Homo sapiens: one gene and its partners. The protein of the gene in region 3 purifies or fractionates together with the protein of the main gene of each other region. This does not show direct contact. Each region holds a gene or a part of one and is shown on either strand. Other genes may lie near its edges. The genes, in order: ABCB9, DDR1, PCDHAC1 and PDZD8.

The links.
Region 1: the proteins of PCDHAC1 (region 3) and ABCB9 purify together in Homo sapiens (affinity purification with mass spectrometry; 2 studies listed by BioGRID and IntAct, with this or other methods). This does not show direct contact.
Region 2: the proteins of PCDHAC1 (region 3) and DDR1 purify together in Homo sapiens (affinity purification with mass spectrometry; one large-scale study listed by BioGRID and IntAct). This does not show direct contact.
Region 4: the proteins of PCDHAC1 (region 3) and PDZD8 purify together in Homo sapiens (affinity purification with mass spectrometry; one large-scale study listed by BioGRID and IntAct). This does not show direct contact.

Annotation. Positions count from the first base shown.
Region 1 is NC_000012.12:122,931,099-122,936,571, reverse strand, and holds part of ABCB9 (ABC-type oligopeptide transporter ABCB9), read left to right. Parts: intron 1-1,140; coding exon 1,141-1,300; intron 1,301-4,243; coding exon 4,244-4,380; intron 4,381-5,473. UniProt on the Homo sapiens protein: ATP-dependent low-affinity peptide transporter which translocates a broad spectrum of peptides from the cytosol to the lysosomal lumen for degradation.
Region 2 is NC_000006.12:30,882,372-30,888,502, forward strand, and holds the start of DDR1 (epithelial discoidin domain-containing receptor 1 isoform 2 precursor), read left to right. Parts: upstream 1-2,147; 5' UTR 2,148-2,339; intron 2,340-2,608; exon of another isoform or gene 2,609-2,848; coding exon of another isoform or gene 2,849-2,860; intron 2,861-2,912; exon of another isoform or gene 2,913-3,017; intron 3,018-3,253; exon of another isoform or gene 3,254-3,309; intron 3,310-6,131. UniProt on the Homo sapiens protein: Tyrosine kinase that functions as a cell surface receptor for fibrillar collagen and regulates cell attachment to the extracellular matrix, remodeling of the extracellular matrix, cell migration, differentiation, survival and cell proliferation.
Region 3 is NC_000005.10:140,923,769-140,929,784, reverse strand, and holds the start of PCDHAC1 (protocadherin alpha-C1 isoform 1 precursor), read right to left. Parts: upstream 3,487-6,016; 5' UTR 2,893-3,486; coding exon 460-2,892; coding exon of another isoform or gene 436-459; exon of another isoform or gene 273-435; intron 1-272. UniProt on the Homo sapiens protein: Potential calcium-dependent cell-adhesion protein. May be involved in the establishment and maintenance of specific neuronal connections in the brain.
Region 4 is NC_000010.11:117,368,155-117,373,641, reverse strand, and holds part of PDZD8 (PDZ domain-containing protein 8), read left to right. Parts: intron 1-5,487. UniProt on the Homo sapiens protein: Molecular tethering protein that connects endoplasmic reticulum and mitochondria membranes. PDZD8-dependent endoplasmic reticulum-mitochondria membrane tethering is essential for endoplasmic reticulum-mitochondria Ca(2+) transfer.

The DNA of each region.
Region 1 (5,473 bases), on a different chromosome or scaffold from region 3:
CTGATCTCAAACTCCTGGGCTCAAGCCATCCTCCCACCTTAGCCTCCCAAACTGTTGGTGTTACAGGTGTGAACCACCATGGCTGGCCTCTATTTTTAAATTTAAAATGTTAATTTCTATAAACATAAAACAATAAAATGCTACAAGCTAATCATATTCTCATAGTTGTAATGAATCTTGTAACTAAGACATGAATGTTCCCCTCCACCTTACCTTTTGAATTCCACCACATGGAGGTAGCCAGTGTTAACAGTTTAGTAAATATCCTTTTCAATGTGTTTCCTATCTTTATAGAAATATATCAATATATGAAGGTACACGTTTATAATTTTTTTAAACAAAAATAGAATCATGCTGTGTATATGTATCTATTACAATTCAGTTTTAAGGATGCACTGTCACTATTTAACCAATCCCCATTTATGGACACCTAGATTGTTTCCATTTTAATTTAATTAATTAACTAATTAACTTTTGCTACTTATGGTGTTGCAATGATATCTTCCATACTATATATTTTTTTCATTTTGTAGATATGGGGTCTTTCTGTGTTGCCCAGGCTGGTCTTGAACTCCTAGACTAAAGCCATTCTCCTGCCTCTGCCTCCCTAAGTGCTGGGATTACAGGCATGAGCCACCAGGCCTGGCCATACTATTATTTTTGTAGGCCCAGATTCCTGAAACTGGAATCTAGAGATGATAGCTCCTTTAAATTGTTCTCTTAGAAGGGAGGGGACCACCGCCAGGGCAGTCTGTGTGACCTGGAGCCCTGCTGTGGCCTCTTGCTTCCTGAGATGAGCAGACTCATTCACAGCAACATTCTATATTCTATCCCTCTTTCTTTTTTTCAGGACAGGGATGGCCAGTGAGCTTTCTCTTAGAGGTCAGGGAACTTGGCTTATCCCAGAGCAGCAAATGTAGCAGGCCCCAGTTTGCTGATTAGGGGAGGCTGAGGGCTTGTGGGTACAGGCGGGAGTCACTGTTGGGGAAGAAGAGAGGCAGCTCAGTGCAGTCACTGGGCCCTGATCAGGTTTCAGGCCTGAGACTGCTGGTGTCTCCAGGCCCCAGGCAGCAAGGCTGCTGGGGACAGCTGGATGAACACATTCCTGGCCTCTCATGCTCCATGCTCCCTCCTCCCCAGATCTCCCTGGTGAGCCAGGAGCCCGTGCTGTTCGCCCGCTCCATCACGGATAACATCTCCTACGGCCTGCCCACTGTGCCTTTCGAGATGGTGGTGGAGGCCGCACAGAAGGCCAATGCCCACGGCTTCATCATGGAACTCCAGGACGGCTACAGCACAGGTGTGGAGCTGGGGGTGGCCCCTCTCCTGGGCCCACAGGGTCACCCTCAGGGACATAACCCTCTGAGTTAAGCACTGCCCCCTGCCACCTGCTCTTTTTTTTGTAGAGATGGGGTCCCGCTACGTTACCCTGGCCAGACTCGAACCTCCTGCGCTCAAGCAATCTTCCTGCAATCCCCAAAGTGCTGGGATTACAGGCATGAGCCACTGTGCTGTGACTCAGCAAAATATTTATTAAGTAAATTATTATAGAAGCCCATACACTGGAATATTATGCTGCTGGGAAAAAGAGGAAGTAGAAGAAGGGGGAGGAGGTGGAGGCGGAGGAGGAGGTGGAGGCAGAGGAGGAGGCAGCTCTCCATATAGCAGTATGGAAAGGTCACTGAGATAGGATGCTGAGTGAGAAGAGCCAGGTGCAGAGCATAAGGAGCTGGGTTTTTTTTTTCCTATTAAAGGACTGGGGAGATAAAAATAACATGTTCATATTTGCATAAAGAAACTAGACAAGGACATGTAAGCAACTAATGAAAGACGTTTTGGTGGGAGCAGGAGGGAACTGAAGAAAGAACTTAAACTTTTCATTATTTAGAGTTTTATATATTTTTAGTTTTTTTAGTTTTTTTTTTTTTTTTGAGGCAGGGGCTTGCTCTGTCACCCAGGTGGGAGTGCAGTGGCGTGATCACGGCTCACTGCAGCCTCAACCTCTTGGGCTCAAGCCATCCTTCCACCCCACTTTTTATTTTTGTTGTAGAGACGGGGTCTTGCTATGTTTCCCAGGCTGGTCTCAAATTCCTGGGCTCATGCAATCCTCCTGCCTCCCAAAGTGCTGGGATTACAGGCATGAGCCATTGTATCCAGCCTGTATTTTTAGATTTTTGAACCACACGAATAGCCCCTTTTCAATAATTAAATATATACAATGTATAGGGGGGTTGGGGAGATGTTGATCAAAAGATAAAAATTTTCCCTTAGGAATAAGGTCAAGAGACCTGTTGACTATAGTTTTTTGTTTGTTTGTGTTTTAATTGAGACAGTCTCACTCTGTCGCCCAGGCTGGAGTAGAGTGGAGTAATCTTGCCTCACTGCAACCTCCGTCTCCCAGGTTCAAGCGATTCTCCTGCCTCAGCCTCCTGAGTAGCTGGGATTACAAGTGCCCACCACCACACCTTGCTAATTTTTTTTTGTATTGTTAGTAGAGACGGGGTTTCACTATTTTGGCCAGGCTGGTCTTGAACTCCTGACCTCAGGTGATCTGCCTGCCTTGGCTTCCCAAAGTGGTGGGATTTCAGGTGTGAGCCACTGTGTCTGGCCAGCTATATTTAGTAACAGTGTACTGTGTACTTGAAAATAGCTAAGAGAGTAGATTTTAAGTGTTCTCTCTTTAAAAAAGTGATAAATATGTGAGATAATGTATATGTTAACTGGCTTGATTTAGCTATTCCACAGTGTATATGTATTTCAGAGCATCACGTTGTACACCATTAAATACAAACTATTTTTACTTGTCAATTTAAAAGAATTTTTAAATTAAAATATACTAAATACACTAATTTTTAAAAAAATTACCTCGATATGAACTTAAGTAGTTCTAGTAATTAATTGATATAATAAATATATATTATTTTAGAATAGTGTTTTGAAATTCAGTAGAGGTGGTGGTTGTGCAACATTGTGAATGCACTAAATGCCACTGGATTATTCACTTTTTTTTTTTTTCTTGAGATGGAGTCTCGCTCTGTCGCCCAGGCTGGAGTGCAGTGGCGCGATCTCGGCTCACGGCAACCTCTTCCTCCCGGGTTCAAGTGATTCTCTTGCCTCGGCCTCCCGAGTAGCTGGGATTACAGGCATGTGCCACCATACCCGGCTAATTTTGTGTATTTTTAGTAGAGACAGGGTTTCACCATATTAGCCAGGATGGTCTCAATCTCCTGACCTTGTGACCCGCCCACCTTGGTTGGCCTCCCAAAGTGCTGGGAGCCACCGTGCTCAGCCCGGATTATTCACTTTACAATGGTTATGTTTATGTTATGTCAGTTTCATCTCAATGAAAGAAAAATGAAATAATAAAGAACTGGTGGCGTGGCCAGGTGCAGTGGCTCACGTCTGTAATCCCAGCACTTTGGAGGCCAAGGCAAGAGGATCGCTTGAGGCCAGGGGTTTGAGAACAGCTTGGGCAATGTAGTGAGACCCCACCTCTACAGAAAAATATTTTAAGTTAGCCAGGTGTGGTGGCATGCACCTGTAGTCTCAGTTACTCAGAAGGCTGAGGCTGGAGGATTGCTTGAACCCAGAAGTTTGAGGCTACAGTAAGCAGTGATTGTACTACTGCACTCTAGCGTGGGTGAGAGAGTGAGACCCTGTCTCTAAAATAATAATAATTGATTGACTCAATTTCCTATTGATGGACATTTGAGTCTATTTGTTTTATTTTTTGCAATAACAGCGCTGTGGGTCACAGGTGACCTGTGTCTATATTGTTGTGCATGGGAGGAAGTCGGTCCATGGGGAAAATTGGTCCAGGTGGGCTTGCGGGGCCACAGGCCACACATCTGTGGTGAATACACACAACCTTTGCACTGCACAGACTCATAGACCCAGGGTTATTGCTGCAGCTCTTCAAGCCATGGGGCTCGCTCCAACTCCCCTTCTCCAGGAGGACGGGTGAGGGCCTGTCTCCCTGCAGCCTCACCTGCACTGTGTGCTATCAGATGTTTGGGTTTCTGCCAAATGAATGAGTGAAAATTGGTAACTTGCTATCAATTTGCATGTAGGCTTAATCTGCATGCCCCTTATGAGTTGGGTGGGGGGAACATCATTTCATGAGCTTTCAAGTTGTGGGTTCCAGCCCGCCCTTTCCACAGCTGCAGGGCAGGGCCTCTCACTCTTCCCCGGTGCTGCCCGGCCTCACCCATTGCTAAATTGTCTCTGTGCCTCCACCATACAGAGACAGGGGAGAAGGGCGCCCAGCTGTCAGGTGGCCAGAAGCAGCGGGTGGCCATGGCCCGGGCTCTGGTGCGGAACCCCCCAGTCCTCATCCTGGATGAAGCCACCAGCGCTTTGGATGCCGAGAGCGAGTATCTGGTGAGTCACAGGGTGGTGGGCAATGCGGGGGCAGGAGCGGCTCCAGGTGGCCAGAGCCCCCATCGCCCAGCAGATGGATGCTGAGAAGAGACGGGCCCCAGGAGCTCTCCCAGACTATCAGCCTCCTGGGCTGGTGAATTCCTGGTGTTGAGAGTGGGGAGCCAGGAGCCACTCTGGACCCAGCCTCCAGGCTCCAGGCAGAGCTGTATGGTGTGGGGCAAGAGAAGGCATCAGAATGGGGAGACCTGGGTCATGAGTGGTGGCTTACACCTGTAATCCCAGCACTTTGGGAGGCCGAAGCAGGTGGATCACCTGAGGTCAGGAGTTGCAGACCAGCCTGGCCAACATGGTGAAACCCCATCTCTACTAGAAATACAAAAACTAGCCAGGTGTGGTAGCACATGCCTATAATCCCAGCTACTTGGGAGGCTGAGGCAGGAGAATTGCTTGAACCTGGGAAGTGGAGGTTGCAGTCAGCCGAGATTGTGCCACTGCACTCCAGCCTGGGCGACAGAGCCAGACTCCATCTGGCTCAAACAAACAGACAAAACAAAACAAAATAAAATAGGCCCAGTATGATGGCTCATGCCTATAATCCCAGCACTTTGGGAGGCCAAGGCAGGTGGATCACTTGAGGTCCGGAGTTCGAGACAAGCCTGGTCAATACAGTGAAACCCTGTCTCTACTAAAAATACAAAAATTAGCTGGGCATGGTGGTGCATGCCTGTAACCCCAGCTACTCGGGAGGCTGAGGCAGGAGACTCACTTGAACCCGGGAGATGGAGGTTGCAGTGAGCTGAGATTGTGCCACTGCACTCTAGCCTGGGCGACAGAGTGAGACTCCATCTACAAAAAAAAAAAAAAAAAGGCTGGGCGCAGTGGTTTATGCCTATAATCCCAGCACTTTGGGAGGCCGAGGCGGGTGGATCACCTGAGGTCAGGAGTTCAAGACCAGCCGGGCCAACATGGTGAAATTCCATCTCTACTAAAAATACAAAAGTCCGCCAGGTATGGTGGCAGGTGCCTGTAATCCTAGCTACTTGGGAGGCTGAGGCAGGAGAATAGCATGAACCTGGGAAGCAGAGGTTGCAAT
Region 2 (6,131 bases), on a different chromosome or scaffold from region 3:
CAGGGGGCCTCTGGGGTTCGGAGTGATGCAGGAGATGTGGAATGGGCTCTGGGGACCACGGATGGGTAATCAGGCCCTCTTGGTCTTTGGTGCTGCTCTCTGGGCCCCAGGATGGCTGGGATTTCCCTCTCAGGCCCCTGGGAATCTCGGCTCCGAGTCCCGCATTCCAGCTGGCTCCAGCTCCCTTTCCGTTGTCACTTGACTCCACTGGGCCCCAGCCTTGCATCCCTCCCACTCCTCCAGCCTAGAGCTGGGGCGAGGTGGGCATCACCACTAGGAATTTCTCCTGAGGCAGTGAGAAGAGGGGACAAAGGTTTCAGGACTCTCTAGCTCCTTCTGCTCTCCCCAGTGGACCCCTCTGTCTGGCACTGCCATGCCACTTAGCTGGGGTCAGCGTGGGCCTGGGGTGTGGAATGTCCCACCAGGGTATGACGGGCTGTAGCTTGCCTGGCAGGCCTGTTGGGGCTTTCCCAGAGCACAGCTCCTGGAAGGAGGGGCTGTGGGCTGCCAGGTGAGGTGACTTGGGAAGCCTTGGCCCCACCCCCAGGCTGGCCCCACCCCCAGTCCAGCGTCTCCTGGGCCTAGATTCCCCAGCTGCTGTTCTCTGGAGGGGTAGGTGTTCTGGGGGAATGAATCCCTGGGGGCTTGGTGGGACAGGAAGGCGGGAAGAAGCTGCTCTTCGAGTGACCCTGGGGCTGTCTGTTAGCAGGTCCCTCAGCCGTTGGAACGTCCTTGGGCTTCTGAACTAGTGCCCATGTGTGCCTCGGCCTTTCCCAAGGGCCAGCTTCTTCCTGGTAGTGCTTTTGTGTACTTGTCTGGTTGGGACTTCGTGTTTCTTTCTTGGGATTGTTGTCTGGGACTGCAAGCAGGGTATGTTTTTATCTACTGTGAGGTTCCTGGGGCGGAGATGTGCAGTGGAGCGAGAACTTCCTGTGACCGTGACATTGTCTAGGTGGTGAGCAGGTGTGGGGGTGTGGAGAGAGGTGAGGGGCTGAGGTAGTGCTGAGTGGGGAAAAAGCACCTCCCACCACAAGCTGTTCTGTCCCGCTCCATCCTCTGCCCAGTAGCTCTCTCAGTTGCTTTGCCTACTCAGTCTCACTGTTTCATCTTCCCTGGGTCTCTTGGTCCCCTTCCTTTTGACTGTGTGTGATTTTCAGTGTGCCTCCATCCTTCTCCTGCTCCTCTTCTTCCTCCTCCCGACCACTCAACTTTGTCCTGGCCTCATTTTTGGCCTCTTCTGGCCAGTGATCAGACCCTCTGGCCCACTACGGCCAGAGCTGGCTGGGCCTGAGGGAGGCTTGCCCTGAGGACTCCTGAGTCCCCCTCCCACTCCACTCCGTTGGGAGCCCAGGGGAATCAGGGCCTGGGCGTCTGGACCCCCGGGTCCCTTAGAACGCCCTTCAGAGAGAGGAACTGAGAGGAGAAGGAGAAGAGAGTGGGCCCGCCTTCAGGGTCTGGGGCCTTCCAGGTTGGGTCGTAGGGGCGGGAGCGCACAGGCTGCGAGAGAGGAGCAAAGGTTGGTGGAGGGAGAAGAGCAGTCTGGGGCCTGGCTGGACAGGTGAGCCCTGAGACCTGAGCTCTGCTCCCTTCTCTGGGCTAACTCCCGCAGCTGGGCTGGGCCGAGCCTGTGGGAACCTGCTTCTTCCTCTGTGCCCTGGGGCTGCTCCCCTTTGCCTCTCCCACCAGGAACCGATCCCAGAAGTAGGAGGGGCGTCTTCCCCTCGTGGGCCCTGAGCGGGACTGCAGCCAGCCCCCTGGGGCGCCAGCTTTGGAGGTTCTCGTTTGGGGAAGCGGGGGTGGGCTGCGAGTGGGTGGAGGGGGCTGGGCGCGGAGCCGGCCGGAGGCAGCGGCGCGGGCGGCTGGGCGGCCTGGGAGCGCCCAGGCGGGCTTGGCGGGCGGGTTACCTGGGGGAGGCCGGGCCGGGCGCTAGCGCGCGGGGTGGGCGTGGCGGGCGCGGGGCCTGGAGCTCGGCGCCGGGCGTGGGAGCCACTGGGACTACTGGGTCCGGGAGGGGGAAGGGAGGGCTGCGAGCCCGAACGCGCGGCGAGAAGGCCGAGGGGAGGGAGGGGAGCGAGGAGCGGGAGGAGGAAGGGAGGGAGCCGAGGCGAGGGGGAGGCGGCGCCTGGGCCCGAGCCGCCCCAGCCCTGGCTCCTCTCCCCGGAACAGGCCCCCGACAGCTGCTCTCGGGAGCCGCCTCCCGACACCCGAGCCCCGCCGGCGCCTCCCGCTCCCGGCTCCCGGCTCCTGGCTCCCTCCGCCTCCCCCGCCCCTCGCCCCGCCGCCGAAGAGGCCCCGCTCCCGGGTCGGACGCCTGGGTCTGCCGGGAAGAGCGATGAGAGGTAGGGAGAGCGGCGGCGGAACCCGCGGGCGGAGGCCTGGGGCTCTTGGGGTGGGGGCGCGCGGCGGCGCCTGCAGGGCGAGGGGCGGGGGAGGCAGGACGTCCCGAGCCATGCTTGGTCGTCCAGCTCTTCTAAGCCTCCCTGCCCGCCTCCCCGATGCTCTGGCATACCGTCTGAAAACCGGGGGCGGGGACTGGGTGGAGGTGAAGCCCGTGACCTCCCAGAAAGAGTTTTGAGCCTCCAGCCTTGAGGCAAGTCCCCTCTCACTCAGTGCGGAGGAACTGAGCCCCGGGAGGAGGTGCTCCTGTGCAGCCCCACTGAGTCAGCTCATCTATCGCCTGCCCTCCACCTGGCCAGTCCCTGCGGGCATCTAACTGCTAAGCCTCCGCTCAGCCAACACCCAGTTGGTCAGTCTGGTCACAGTCCAGCAAAAAGAGGGACTGCCACTCTAACCCACCAGTGACACCACTCTTCCCGGCTGGATGGTCAATTAGCTCTGGCATGAGAGAATGTCACTGCCGGTGAGCGCCAGCTTCAGGGTCCCACCCCCCCATGCCTGGCTCTTGGCTGAACATTTCTTCCCAGCGCTTCCAGCAGCCAGAGGCAGGCGCCCAAGCTCGCTGGCTGTTGCTGAGGGCCTGTAGGTGTGTCCAGGACTGAGTGGTGTGGTGGAGACAGGTGAAAGGGGAGTGAGTGGAAAGGCAGGGAAAGGCTGTTGTCCTTATTGCCACTCTTCCCACCCAGCGCCCACCTGTTCCCTGCCCCCTCGACGTCCCTCTGGCTTGGTCACCCATGTGTGTTAGAGGCTGGGCCCCAGTTCTCTGGGGATCCTGTGCCCAAGGGCCCGGGTGTGTGTGTCTCATGCTGTCTTTTGGTCACAGGAGCATGTGGTGTCTGTCATTTCATGTTCACAGGTGTCTGAAGGTGGCTATTCACTGAGCGATGGGGTTGGACTTGAAGGAATGCCAAGGTGTGGACGGGTTGATGTATGCATGAGCTTCTGTGTTTGCTCTGTCTCAGAAACTCTGTGAGGGTTGTCAGGGACACTGAGAGGTGGGTGTGTGCATGCCACATTTAGCCTCGCTGTTTACAGCCAGTTCAGTAAGTTTGTGTGTTTCACCGTGTGTGTGTGTACAGAGCTGTGTGGGTGTTGTCTGAGTGGGACTTGGGGGTTGGGAGAGGAGCGTGAAGGGCTTGAGGCAGGGTGGCCTGGCCCCTGGTTTGTCTTTGGTTGTAATGGAGTGGAAGGGGGTGGGATTGGGGAAGGTCTTCTGGGCTTGTCCTCTCTTGCCCTCTGGGTCTCTGACTGTGGACTGAAGACCCAGTGGAGAGAGATGAGGTGACTGGGGGTGTTGGAGAACAGACAGCCCAGACGTCTCTGTGCTTCTCCGTGTTCCTCTGCTTGGCTCTGTGCCCCGTGTTTCTGAGCCTGCTCTATTTACCTCTTGCATTGTGGCTCTCGCTCTGTCTCCGCCTGCCTCGTATCCTCTGCCTGCCTTTGTATCTCTGCCCCGGGCTCCTCTCGGCTCTGTGTGGCTCTGATGACTCATCTGGGATAGGCATGAAGGTTACTTAGGGGAACAAGAGCCCCGCTGTTCCCGAGAGAGGTGGGGTTGGAGAGCGGCACCCAGGAATTCCAAGCCAGTCTCCTGGGACTCTGGCAGCCTGCTCCCCGGCGCTGGACCCTAAGGGACCAGGCGTGATGCCTTCTGGTTCTAGCCTCTGAGTGCCCCCCACAACTCAGTCGTCCCCCTCAGCTGCTGCTTCAGAGCTCTGGGGTCTCAGCTGCCTCTTACATTCCTGCCCTAGTGCATTGTGGGAGCAGCTGGAGGAGGACAAAGGGATGGGGGAGTATCCCCCACTCCTCCTACCTCCTGGGGTGACCTGCCTTCCTTGTCTTTAGACCCGCCCTCGTCTCCAAGGCAACTCAGCCTTTCCTCAGTCCCTCAGAGGCAGCCACCTTCTGGAAGTGGGAACTGGGGGGACTGGATGTCTGGGTCTCAGGAAGGCAGAGCAGGGATAACTGGGCCCAAGATGCCCTGAACCTGATAAGAGGTGGCAGTCGAGTCCCTCAGGACTCCAGGGCCTGGAGACTTCAGTACAGGGCTCTGAGACCAGTACAGGTTAGGATAGCTTTTCCTGCAGCAGGGGAGGGGAGAGTAGTTACTTGGGTTTGTAAGGAGATGCCATTTAGAATAGTTTTATGTGGGGTAAGCTTCCTGGGCCTGAGGAACAGAGTAGGGATTTTCAAACTTTAATGGGCACAGGTCACCTGGGAATTGTGTTAAAAGGCAGATTTTGATTGAGCAGGTCAAGGGTGAGCCTGAGATTCTGATTTCTTCCATGCTTCCAGGTATTGCTGATGGTCCAGGGACCACCCTGGGCCTAGAGGGCTATAGGGGACAGTAAGACTAGAAGGTGCTGGGGTCCCCTCTGCCCTTCTCTTAGAATTCTGGACTCCTATGTGGGAGGGCAGCAGGGTGAGCTGGTCCAGGCTTATCTGATGTTTAATTCTATCATATCCTCAACAAGGAATTGCCCAACCTTTCCTGGGACATATTTATTTTTTAAAAGTCAAAATGATTTTCATATTCTTTTACATATCTTATGATTTTACATAAATGCATTTATGTTACAAGATTTAGAAAAATAGTACAATCAACCTGTCTTTTTAAATTTGCTTTTCTTTTGCCCCGTTCATGTTAACTCTTGTTATATTGTATTCTATTGTTATATTCTATTATATATTCTCTCCTTCTAGACGTACACACAGGTATATATACAAACATGGGTGCTTGTTTATTCTATTTTCAAAAGGTGGGATATTTTTTATACTTCTGTTGCTTGCTTTTCATATTCAACAGATATACATGGAAATCACACAAAGTTAGGAATATATTGCCTCTTTGTTACTTTTCATAGCTGCATAGTAGTCAATAAACCTTATTTTTTTTAATTCCAGCCTGTCCCCTGTGGGCATTCACATATCTTACAGATTTATGTCTTACAAAAGGTACCATAATAAACATCTTTGAAATCTTCTTTTTTATTTTTATTTTTCACTTTTTTTAAAGAGATGGGGTCTCACTATGTTCACCAGGCTGGTCTCTAACTCCTGGCCTCAAGTGATCCTCCCATCTCGGCCTCCCAAAGTGCTGGGGTTACAGGCATGAGCCACCAGACCCAGACCTGCACATATGTTCTTACTTCCTGGTGCTTCTCTCTCGAGGGAATGCTGGGTCGAAGAGGATGTGCATTTTTAATTATAATAGACATTGCTAGATTGCTTTCCAAATAGAAGATAACACTCATTTCTGCCATTGAGCATGGTGCCTCCCTTTTCATCACTTTCTACCACTTTTATATGTTACAGCCTTAAAAAAATATCTTGTCAGTCTGCTTGGTATTTCCCTGAGGCTGGTGAATTTGACCATTAAAAAAAATGTTTGTTGGCAATTTGGCTTTGCTTTTCTGTGAAATGACTATTCACATTCTTTGGCTGTTTCTTTATTGGGTTACTTATATATTTTTTCTTGTCAGTTCCTAAGGGGCCTTAGTTTATTGTAGTTATTAAACCTTTTCCTGTTGTATGTGTTATAAACATTTTTTGCACACTTGTTGTTTGTTCTAAGCCGTTGTTTATGGGGATATTTTGCCCATTCCTGATTGGAGAAATGGGGCTTTAGGAAGTTATTTAACTGATCTCTGCCCTAGTTTCTTCATGTGTTAAATATGGATAGTAATAGTATCTACCTTATGAAGTGACTGTGAAGATAAAATTATGGATTCTGT
Region 3 (6,016 bases):
TATTTTTACATCTTTTGTGGTTATCGTCATCTTTTAATAATGCATTGCAATAGTTTAAGTAAATGTTTCACCTTCCATATTATATTCATATAAAGCAGACTCTTACATATTTTTCATTCTTCACTTTAAATATTAGAGTGCCTTACACATCTGTTGCTTATAAAATATTTTGGTATTTTATTTTTAATTTTAGACCTTTATGTCATATTACTTTTATTGTTCTTAAATAGGTTTTAATTTTTGCCCTTGTTTCTCAAAAATAAACTATAAGTCCCTTGAGGCCTAGGGCAATCTTCTAATACTTCTATACTTCCAGATTTCTTGGCACAGGAAGTGCTAAGAAGGAGTGTTTAGTTCAATTGATGAAATGTTGTGAAAGGCTTGTCTAAGAAATATTTCAAAACACAGCTAGCAGCCATCTCCGGGCCAAAGGAATCAAATTCCATAAAATTTGCTTACCATGGCATTGACATTAGCGTGATCCCCTTTCCTATTCCGAATCTGAATACAGGATATTGGCAAATTCAGTCCTACCCCAGTGGCAAGATTTCGCAGGTCGGCAGCATTGTACTCCCCACGCAACAGCAAACTGTTATTATCAGAACCAAGTCCCAGAGAGGCCCGATAGAGATAAGTCTGAGAAAGTCTCTCAACTGTAGTGACATCTATGGTGGCTGATGTCATGCAAGGATTTGAAACCATCTTACTTCCATACCTCAGATCCTCTGTAGAGCGACAGCAGCTCTGAGCGCAACAGCCTGGGCTCTGGTGCAACTTGGTACACACGAAGAAAAGTAAGCACCCCAGAAATAAAAAGGAAATACAAGCCAAGGCAATTACTAAATACAAGTTCTGGGCAGAAAGCTGCCCTCCTGGTTCCCAGACATCTTCAAAGTCTGGAAGTAACTGAGGGACAGAGTTGCTCAACAGCACACCCAGAGTGACAGAGGAGGAAAGTGGTGGGTCTCCATGGTCCCGAACCACTACCACCACCCTCTGCTTAACTGCATCAGTGGGAAGAACTAAGCGAGCAGTACGGAGCTCACCTATATTGGCTGAAATTCTAAAGAGACTAGAGTCAGACGCCCGGGAGATGTGGTAGGAAAGCCAGGCATTAGAACCACTGTCAGCATCCTCTGCTACCACTTTTGTGACCAAGTGTCCAGTCCTGGCAGAGCGGGGCACAATTTCCACTGGGACAGAACCATTTCTGGGCAAGGGAAACAAGATAACCGGATAATTGTCATTCCTATCTACCACAAACAAGTTTATAGTCACTGTTGCACTTCTGGGAGGAATGCCACCATCCCGGCCTTCTACTTGGAAATGAAACCCCCTGAGCTGCTCAAAGTCAAAGGAAGTTTTGGCAGTGATGGCCCCACTGGATGATTCCACTGCCAGCAAGCTAGAGGCTGATGGCCCTTCAGAGATAACATCCAACAGCTCATAAGAGACAAGGCCATTCTTCCCCAGGTCGGGGTCCTGGGCAAACACTCGGCCTAGAGAGGCCCCAGGGCCATTGTTTTCAGCAACGAAAAGTTCCTGCTGGGGTTGAGGAAAGTTTGGTGTATTGTCATTCACATCAGCAACTGACACAGTGATTGTCCTTCGGGTGCTAAGTGGGGGTGAGCCACTATCTGAGGCCGTGATCAGGACTTGGTATTCACTGATCTGCTCCCGGTCCAGGGGCCCATCAATCAGCAGGCTGTAGTAGTTGTCAAAGGAAGCCGTCAGCTGAAAAGGGCCTGCACTAGACATGCCACAAATGACCCTACCATTAGAATCGAGGTCTTCATCCTTTACACTAAAGAGAGCAATCACTGTGCCAGGGGCAGCGTCCTCAGGTACTGGGTTCGAAAGAGTCAGGAAGTCCAGTTCGGGGGCATGATCGTTCACGTCAGTCACCTCCACCAGCAGTTTAGCGGTGCTAGCTAAACCAAAGACACCTTCGTCCCTCGCCTCAATGTATGCCTCCAAGAGCGTTTCAGGCGGACCTAGTGAAGCAGCTACTTGCACCTCCCCACTTTTAGGGTGCACGTGAAAGCGGTGTCGCAGCTCTGCTTGCGTGCTGTTGCTTAGGGAGTACTGGACTTCCCCATTGGACCCTTCATCTGGATCCAAGGCTTGAACTCGGAATAACACAGTCCCATTGGGTGCAGTCTCTGGAACCTTGGTGCGGTATACGGAGCGCTCAAATACAGGCGCGTTGTCATTTGTGTCCACCACAATGATGGTGACTTGTGCGTCTCCTGAGCGGGCAGGTAGCCCGCCGTCCCGAGCTGTAAGCACCAGCAGGTGGGTGGCGCGCTGTTCGCGATCCAGTGCTTTCTCCAACACCAACTCCGGGTATTCGCTGCCGTCAACCCGCGATCCCATGTCCAGGCGAAAGTGCTGACTGGGGCTTAGGCTGTAGCTTAGTATCCCATTGCTTCCCTCGTCGTCATCTTGGGCATTCGGGAGAGTAAAGCGGGCTCCGGGCGTCAGGAACTCGGGGATGTGCAGCTGCACGTCGCCGGCAGGAAAGAGAGGTGAGTTGTCATTGGTGTCCAGGACGTGAATCCGAATCTTGTGCAGCTCCAGCGGGTCCTCGAGCACCAGGTCGTAGGTCAAGACGCAGGCAGCTTTGGCCCTGCACAGCTGTTCGCGGTCCGCCGGCTCTCTGACCACCAAATTGCCGCTGGGTAGATCCACCCCGAAGTAGAGCTCGCGGTGGCTGGAAAGGAAGCGAAAGTTCCGCGAGGACATAGCGGCCGCTGGCAGCCTCAAGTCCGCGGAGAGATTGCCTACGGCTACGCCCCGCTCCGTCTCCTCCGGCACTGAGTACTCGAGCTGTCCCGCTGCAGCGCCGCAGGAAACCCACAAACATAAAACTGCCACCCCACAGCCCACCATCCTCCCTCTAGGCGTCCACGTTCCACCAACACGCTACACCAACGGTGACCCAGGACCATGCTCCGGACTCCTGGAGAGCACGAGCCGCGGGGAAGAGCACGCTCCTGCCGGCCGTCACTGCTGCGGGCTGGATACTCAGCGACCGCCGACGTTGCGCCTCCCGAACGCCGGCATTGCCGGGGCTGGCCAGCTGGGAGCCGGGCTTGCTAGGCTGGAGGCTGGGCAGCCGTCTGGGAAAGCGGAGCCGGCCGGGTGTTGAGGAGCGCAGCGCCGCCTAGGGGTGCAGAGACGAGGCCGCCCGCCCGGGCGCGAGAGGTGCTGTCTCCAGTAGCAGCGGGCTGGGGTCTCGACCACCACGCTGGCTGCGGGCGCAGGGCGGAGCCTGGGAGACGCCCCGAGACACTAACACTTCTCTCCTTAAACGGTGTTTTCTAGGACAACGCCCTGAGGCTGCCCAGATCTTAACCTCCACATCCTCTGCCCGCAGATTGCTGATAACTGTGGCTGAGCCCAGCTGGGCTCTTCCTGCCGCCCTTTGGGAGCCGCGCGTCGGGTCCCGGCGCTCTGACCCCGGCGCACCTCTCCGGCGGAGAGGGCGGGACTCAGCGTGGAGCTGCCGAGCGGAGGCGGCGAGAGGCGGGACGGTGAACGTGAGCGACCACACCTTCTAGGCTTAAGGAAACAGGAGCCCCCCGAAAGAAGTGCTGCGGGGGGCTTTCCGCGCTGGATCCTGCTGCAGAGCTTTCCGCGCTGGATCCTGCTGCGGGTTGAAGTCTGTCCTGCACCCTCTTGTATCCCAGGAGCTGCCAAGAGGGCAATAGAGACGACAAGGAGGGGAAGAAGGTTGGGGAATAGTGTCCGCATCAAACTGCCTCCGGACTCTGGCTTTTCGAGGCAGCGGAGCCAGCGAGCTCAAGGCTTTTTTTTTGCGTGATAGCAGTTTCTCCTTCTCCAAGAGGCTCTACTTGGGAGTGCTTTGCAAACGGCCCTTGACGATCTGGGTGAAAGAGGAGGTTATAAACCAGTCAATAGCAATAACTAGAAACTCAAAGACTTGACGACCCGTCCCCAAAGAAGACGTGAGAAGTGGAGGGGAAAGTACTGAGATACTCATTAGAGTTTGACCAGGAAACTACTCTGTAAATTTTCTTTCTGTAAATATTTAGAAAACACCATGAGGCAGGATAAGAATAGGCTAGATACCCACCCTCGCTTTATTATTATTATTATTATTATTATTATTATTATTATACTTTAAGTTCTAGGGTACATGTGCACAACGTGCAGGTTTGTTACATATGTATACATGCGCCATGTTGGTGTGCTGCACCCATTAACTTGTCATTTACATTAGGTATTTCTCCTCGCTTTTAATTTGGTCTTTTGCGTGGATATTGGGACAGTGATCAGTTCTATGAGAAACATCTCTGAGCCACAACAGATACACCCAAATTCTGCCTAACACCCTACAACCAGTTCCTTTCCCTAAGAAGGAGGCGAGCCAAAAGGAGACTCATTGACTATTGACTATGAAGCACTAAATTCCTCACTCAAATCCTTCTTTTAATACAGGTGCAATATGTCCAAAGCCCCAATAATGAAACATTTGAAAGGCAAAATCTGAACACAGATCAAGAATTAAAGTTTCCAGGACATATTTTCTGGTAGAAACCTGCCTAAAAGTATCGATAATTATTGAAGCTGGGTGATGGTACATTGGGGTCAATTACACAATTCTCTCAACTTTTGTGTATGTTTGAAATTTTTTTTCCTTCCTTCCTTCCCTCCTTCCTTCCTTCCTTCCTTCCTTTCCAGATGAGCGTGTTGCTTTGTTGCCCAGTCTGGTCTCAAACTTCTGGGCTCAAGCGATCCTCCCATCTTATCTCAGCCTCCTAAAGTGCTAGGATTACAGACATGAGCCACTGCACTCACCTTGCATTTTTTTTTTAACTTTTTATTTTATTTTATTTTATTTTATTTTATTTTATTTTTTTTTTTGAGACAGGTTCTTGCTCTGTCACCCAGGCTGGAGTGCAGTGGCACGATCTGAGCTCCCTGCAACCTCCCCCTCCCAGGTTCAAGCGATTCTCTTGCCTCAGCCTCCTAAGTAGCTAGGACTACAAGCGCGCACCACCATGCTCGGTTAATTTTTGTATTTTTATTAGAGGTGAGGTTTCGCCATGTTGCACAAGCTGGTCTCGAACTCCTGACCTCAAGTGATTGGCCTGCCTCGGCCTCCCAAAGTGCTGGGATTACAGGTGTGAGCCCCATGCCACCGCACCTGGCATCAGCCTGCATATTTCTATAATATTTGAAAACATTTAAAAATTGCTGATTAAAATGGTGGGGAGAGGGGTAGCTCGGGCATTCTCTTTTTAACACTAAGAGTGGGATTGATAATGCCAGTGTTCCACTAAAAACCAGTTACCTCCCTAAACACACAAACCCATTCGTTATCTCTTCTAGGGAACTAGAAAGGGCACACTGTGATATAAGGCAATATAAGTAGTAAATACCCCTTGGCTAGTTTGCCTTTTTGAATTAAGAAACCAAAAAATCATTGACACCAAGTCTCAGATAAAATTAAAGGAGGAAACATGTCAGCCTATTAGGTAGTCACAAGTACAGACCTCATTAGATCTCACCAGGATGCAAAACAGCCCATAAAAATTGAACTTATTCTTCACCAAATTTCTAAACCAAAACTAATTTTCTGCTTCAGTGCCAGAGATTAGGATGTGCATTTCTTCATTTTAAATTAATGCTGCTAAGCAAGCTAACTGCTTTGGAATGAAAATTTATTCTTTCTGCCTTAAACAGATGAAATACAACTGTAAAGATGTACCGAACTTTTAGGTCTGCAGCCATGCCTCCAATTATACCAGGTTTAGGAATTCTGAGCTGCACCTAGAGGGATAGTATGTGTGGGTATAGATTAGGGCGTGAGGAAAAAAGGAAAAATGCATACAGAGAACAGTATGGGAAATCTTCACAGAAACTCCTCCTCTTTCACACGCTTCTCAGATTTTTGGCTTCCCTTTTTCCCATTTCTCTATTTAAACTGCCACTGACGTCTATTTTCAGAAGATTTCATTTGTGAAAAGAATGAAGAAACCATCCACCC
Region 4 (5,487 bases), on a different chromosome or scaffold from region 3:
CGCCTTGCTGATTTTTTTTTTTTTTTTTTTTTTTTTTGTATTTTTTAGTAGAGACGGAGTTTCACCGTATTGGCCAGGCTGGTTTCGAACTCCTGACCTCAAGTAATCCGCCTGCCTCGGCCTCCCAAAGTGTTAGGATTACAGGAGTGAACCACCGCGCCCGGCCCGGGAATACTTTCCACAGCAGATGGGAAAGGAGTTGGGAGCCTGTACATAGTGTACTTTACATTTTGTATTAATGTCATTTGCCCATTTTGGGTAGATTGTAGAACACAGATCCAGACTCTGCCCATCAAGCATTTACTCTCTGTGACTGTAAGTTCTTCTCTCAAGGGACCTGAAGTCACTGTACAAATTGTATTTTAATGCTAGGTAGTGATTTTAATTTTGTTTAAGCCTTCCAGCATCTGATGGCTTAAATTTTGTGGTATACAGTTTTGAGTAGTATATAAATTTTGTTTTAATATTGTAGGAGTGGAAGGGGAAAGACTTTTTTAGGGCTAGAGGTGGAGTGGAAGGTGCTTTTTCTTTTGTAAAAAGCTGAATTTTTAACTTCTCTTTCGGTCCTCCTTTAATTTTGTATTCACTAAGACATTTGAGCCTTTAAAATTTTGCCCTTTATTATAAAATTATGTCAGTCTTGTATTTTACTTACCTAATTTTACTTGCCTTTTAGTGGAAGTTGCCTATTTCTGGATCACTAATTTTCTACCAGTGTCAATTTTCAGGAGCAAGATAATCCAGAAATATTTTGGGTTTGGAATGGATTATTGACTTCTGTATGTGGCAGATGTACCTTACCAATTATGTTTTGTTTAGGCTAACAGCGCAGAGTGACAGTTTAAAACTTGCGTGGCAGGAGAAATTTACTTTGTAATGGAAATATTTCCATAGATTTGCGGAGGGTGGTGAACTGGTTGTTCACTGTGTTCGATTTCTGGTTCTGTGAAGTAGAACATACTTTATGAAACCTACTTTTAACCTCTGGAATATCAGTGATTAAATTATAACTCGGTTCTAGTGTTTAAGCAGTGAGAGATGTTTATTTATAGCAGTGTGTTGCCAAAAAAGTCATGAGAAAAAGTTGCTAGAAATTTTGGTATTCTATCACAACTTCAATTATGATGTTTTCTGATAGCTTTCAGTTAATACAATTTGACTAGATTATTATTTTGAAATTTGTAGACTAGCCAATGACAGTGAGATTACATATCATTTTGAGATTTTTTTTTTAATGTAGACTTGGAATTTAGGTAAATCTGAAGTAAGTTATGAATAAGTTATGGAGGCATTGAGAAGTTTATTACTTTGAAAAACTATTATCTGTATCATTGAATAACAACCATTTAAAAGTATGGCAAAATTGCTTTTCACTTTGAAGGGATTTTTTTAAAAACAGCATGAATTTGGTTATGATATTTCAACTTCTAAATGTGAAGCATTAAATGATCATTTCCAGAAGTATGCACATCTGTGCTATTTATACTGGATGGCATCTCAATGCTCAGTCAGCTGCACAGAGCATATCACTCAATCTGTAAATGTTTATTGTACACCTGCTATATGCTTATCCTTGTTGTAGATGCTGGGATTTCAGTACTGAACAATACTTGAACTCAGCCCTCAGGAAGCTTAGAGTCTAGTGAGAATTGAATTAGCTATACTTAGTAATTTTTTTGTGTTTTTCGTTTGTTTGTTGAGACAGGATTTTGTTCGGTTGCCCAGAGCTGGAGTACAGTGTCAGGATCATGGCTCACGGCAGCTTCGACCTCCTGGGCTCAAGCAATCCTCCCATCTCAACCTTCCAAGTAGTTAGGACCACAGGTGTGTGCCACCACTCCTGGCTAATTAAAAAAAAATTTTTTTTGTAGAGATAGGTCTTGCTTTGTTGCCCAGGCTAGTCTGGAACTCCTGGGTTCATTCAAGTGATCCTCCCACCTCAGCCTCCCAAAGTGCTGGGATTACAGGTGTGAGCCACCTTGCCCGGCGCTTTGTAAGATTTAAACTAGAATGGGATTGATGGGGTTGAAGTAGCCAGGAAGCCGGTTTTAGCTTAGTAGAAGAAAATAGCAAGTATGACGATGAAAAGGGCTGCCTCAGCAAGTGATGACTTCTTGTCTGTGTAGCTGTTCTGTCCAGTGTTTTAAACTGGTGATGGGCCAGGTGCAGTGGTTCACGCCTGTGATCCCAGCACTTTGTAAGGCTGAGACAGGCGGATTACTTAAGGTCAGGAGTGTGAGACCAGCCTGGCCAACCTGATGAAACCCCGTCTCTAGTAAAAATGCAAAAATTAGCTGGGCGTGGTGGCGGGCGCCTGTAATCCCAGCTACTCTGGAGGCTGAGGCAGGAAAATGGCTTGTACCTGGGAGGCAGAGGTTGCAGCCAGCCGATATCGCACCACTGCACTCCAGCCTGGGCGACAGGGTGAGACTCCGTCTCCAAAATAAATAAGTAAATAAATAAATAAACAAACTGGTGATGATGTGGGACTGATTCAAGTTTCAGATAAGAATGAATTACAATACATCTAAGATATAGCATACTTCTCACAGGGAAAATTAAACTAGCTAGTGTTCATCTTTTTTTACAGATGAGGAAATGGAGCTCGGAGTAGTTAAATAACTTGCTTAAAGTCACACAGCTTTCAAGTGTTGAAACGCAGCTCTGATAAGGCCAGGCCACCTTTAAACACACACACACACACACACACACACACACACACAAACTATGTTGTTCTTAAGTGATTTATTTTTTAAAAGCATGCCATCGATATAGTAAATATGTGGGATATCTTTCCAAACTAACCTAGAACTCTTGAGAAGAGTATGACTATAAAGCTGATTTTTTTTTCTTAAATTGGTCATTTTAGAGGATCCTTTTAAAAGTAAATCATGAGGCTAAATCTTTGGGTACTGTCCCACGTGGCATTTCTTTTTTAATTGAGCAGAATTGTGTTTCCAAATAGAAGAGACAGGTTTCACCATGTTGGCCAGGCTGGTTTCGAACTCCTGACTTCAGGCAGTCTACCCACCTCGGCCTCCCAAAGTGCTGGGGTTACATGTGTGAGCCGCTGTGCCCGGCCTAGTTTATTCTTTTTTAGCTATCTAATCTTCTTAGTAGAGCTAAAGCAGTAAAGAGAATTGTATGGAGTCTTACGATCCTTTGGCATTTGTAATCATTACATAACAAATATCTTGCCAGTTAACGTTGTTATTACTTCTTTCCCCCTTCATTTATTTTGCCTTTTTCGTGTTGCTAAAGTGAATCAGCCTCTCTGGACTGCCAGTTCCTGATGTTTCACCTAGAGATGCTAAGTTGCTCAAGTGGTTGCTTTCTAAGGACCCAGCTGACTGACATTTCATTTTACCCAAGTTAACAAACTTACAATGTTTGTAAAACATTTTATTTTACAAAATGAATTATAATATGTAGACAATATGTTTACAGATTTATTCAAGTTAGGAATTTCATTCATCCACCTCAATGTTAATTGGTTTGATTTTTTAATTAAAATAGTATATTATAATAGCAATATATTTTTTTAAATGAACCTCAGAATCCATCCTCAAGGGAGAAAGATTACCACTAATGTTCTTTTACTACGTGGATAATTCATCTTAAACATGGAGTCTGAGTAATAGTGTCTGGGTGGGGAGCTCTGTTTAGGGTTTAGGAGTCAAATATTTGAGATTCTTACGGATGCTTGTGTTCCTGGAGTATTATTGTATATAGACAAGCAGATTCAGTTTGCAGGTACTTTTAATTTGGCCTGCACTGTTTAAAAAATGGAAAATTCTGTGTGTTTTGGATTTGTGGCTTCTGTTAGGAAAAATTGGAATATCTTGTAGCGCCAGTGCTGCATTTCTCAGAGCAACAACAGGATGGAGAGATGGACTGTAGTAGCAGCTTTGGGGTTGAAACTCGGTGTGTAAGCTCCTAGGTGGAGTTTATAGTCCCCCCTTATTTGCTGTGCTTAATTGATGGTACTTGCCTGGCTTGGAGTTATATGAATTTGAGACCCGTACTGGAGGAGTAAATAGGGAGCATTACTGTTGCTGATTAGTGAAAATGAGAAGACTTAATAGCTGGAGTGGAGAGGGAGAGTGATCATTTTTATCCTTCTTTTAATTACATTTTTGAAGGGACTGTCATAGAGCAATTTTATTTTTTAAAAGACATTGTTGGCCAGGTGCGGTGGCTCACTCCTGTAATCCCAGCACTTTGGGAGGGCAAGGCAGGCGGATCACTTGAGGTCAGGAGTTCGAGACCAGCCTGGTCAACATGGCGAAACCCCATCTTTACTAAAAATACAAAAATTAGCTGGGCATGGTGGCACATGCCTGTAATTCCAGTTACTCAGGAGGCTGAGGCAGGAGAATCGCTTGAACCCGAGAGGCAGAGATTGCTGCAAGCCGAGATCATACCACTGCACTCCAGCCTGGGCAACAGAGCAAGACTCTATCTCAAAAAGTAAAAATAAATAAATAAATAAATAAAAGACATTGTCAGGCCTGGCGTGGTGGCTGATGCCTGTAATCTCAGCACTTTGGGAGGCCAAGGTGGGTGGATCACTTGAGGTCAGGAGTTCGAGACCAGCCTGGCCAACATGGTGAAACCCCGCTTCTACTAAAAATGGCACGCACCTGCAGTCCCAGCTGCTGGGGATGCTGAGGCATGAGAATTGCTTGAACCCAGGAGGCGGAGGTTGCAGTGAGCCAAGATTGCGCCACTGTATTCCAGTCTGGGCAACAGAGTGAGACTGTCTCAAAAAAAAAAAAAAAAAAAAAAAACATTGTCAATATAATGTTGAATTTTAAAAAGTCACTCTGCCAGAAAAAAAAAAATGCCTTGAAATGCAATCCATTTTTCTACCATGTAGTGATGGTAAGTAGATAGTGTCTCCTTTTTGTTCGAGTTTGGTGGATAGTTTGCTTTAGTGGAATGGGTCATTAATAACTATGTAAGCATTTACTTCACTGATCTCCAAAAAGGGGGGCATCAACTTATTGACAGTATATTTGAATTTAATGAATTGAGTGATCCGTATCTCAAAATCTTTCAAAGTAAATTCACAGAAAACTGACAAAATCATTTGTAAAGTCAAGTGTAATATGTTGTATTTATTTACTTTTTCATACTTTTTTCCTTTCTATTACATTGGAAAATATTTTAAAATAGCTACTAAAATTCCTTGATGGTTATAATAGTGACAGTTTTACTTACTAATGTTGATAGGAAATCTAACCTTTAATATTTGGGGAGAATAGACAATGGCATTGTGCATTACTCTAGCTATGCTGGAATAATCTTGTAATAGCTAATTTTTAACCTGTTGTGCTTTTTCTTGTACTGTTGCTCATATCTCTATATCTCGTCATATCTCTGTATAAGTTGAATTGCAAGATCATTGTCTTAGAGATGAATAATTATGTCATTTAAAAAATAGTCATTTATCTTCAGTAAGTGCTTAGTGCATACTACCTAGTG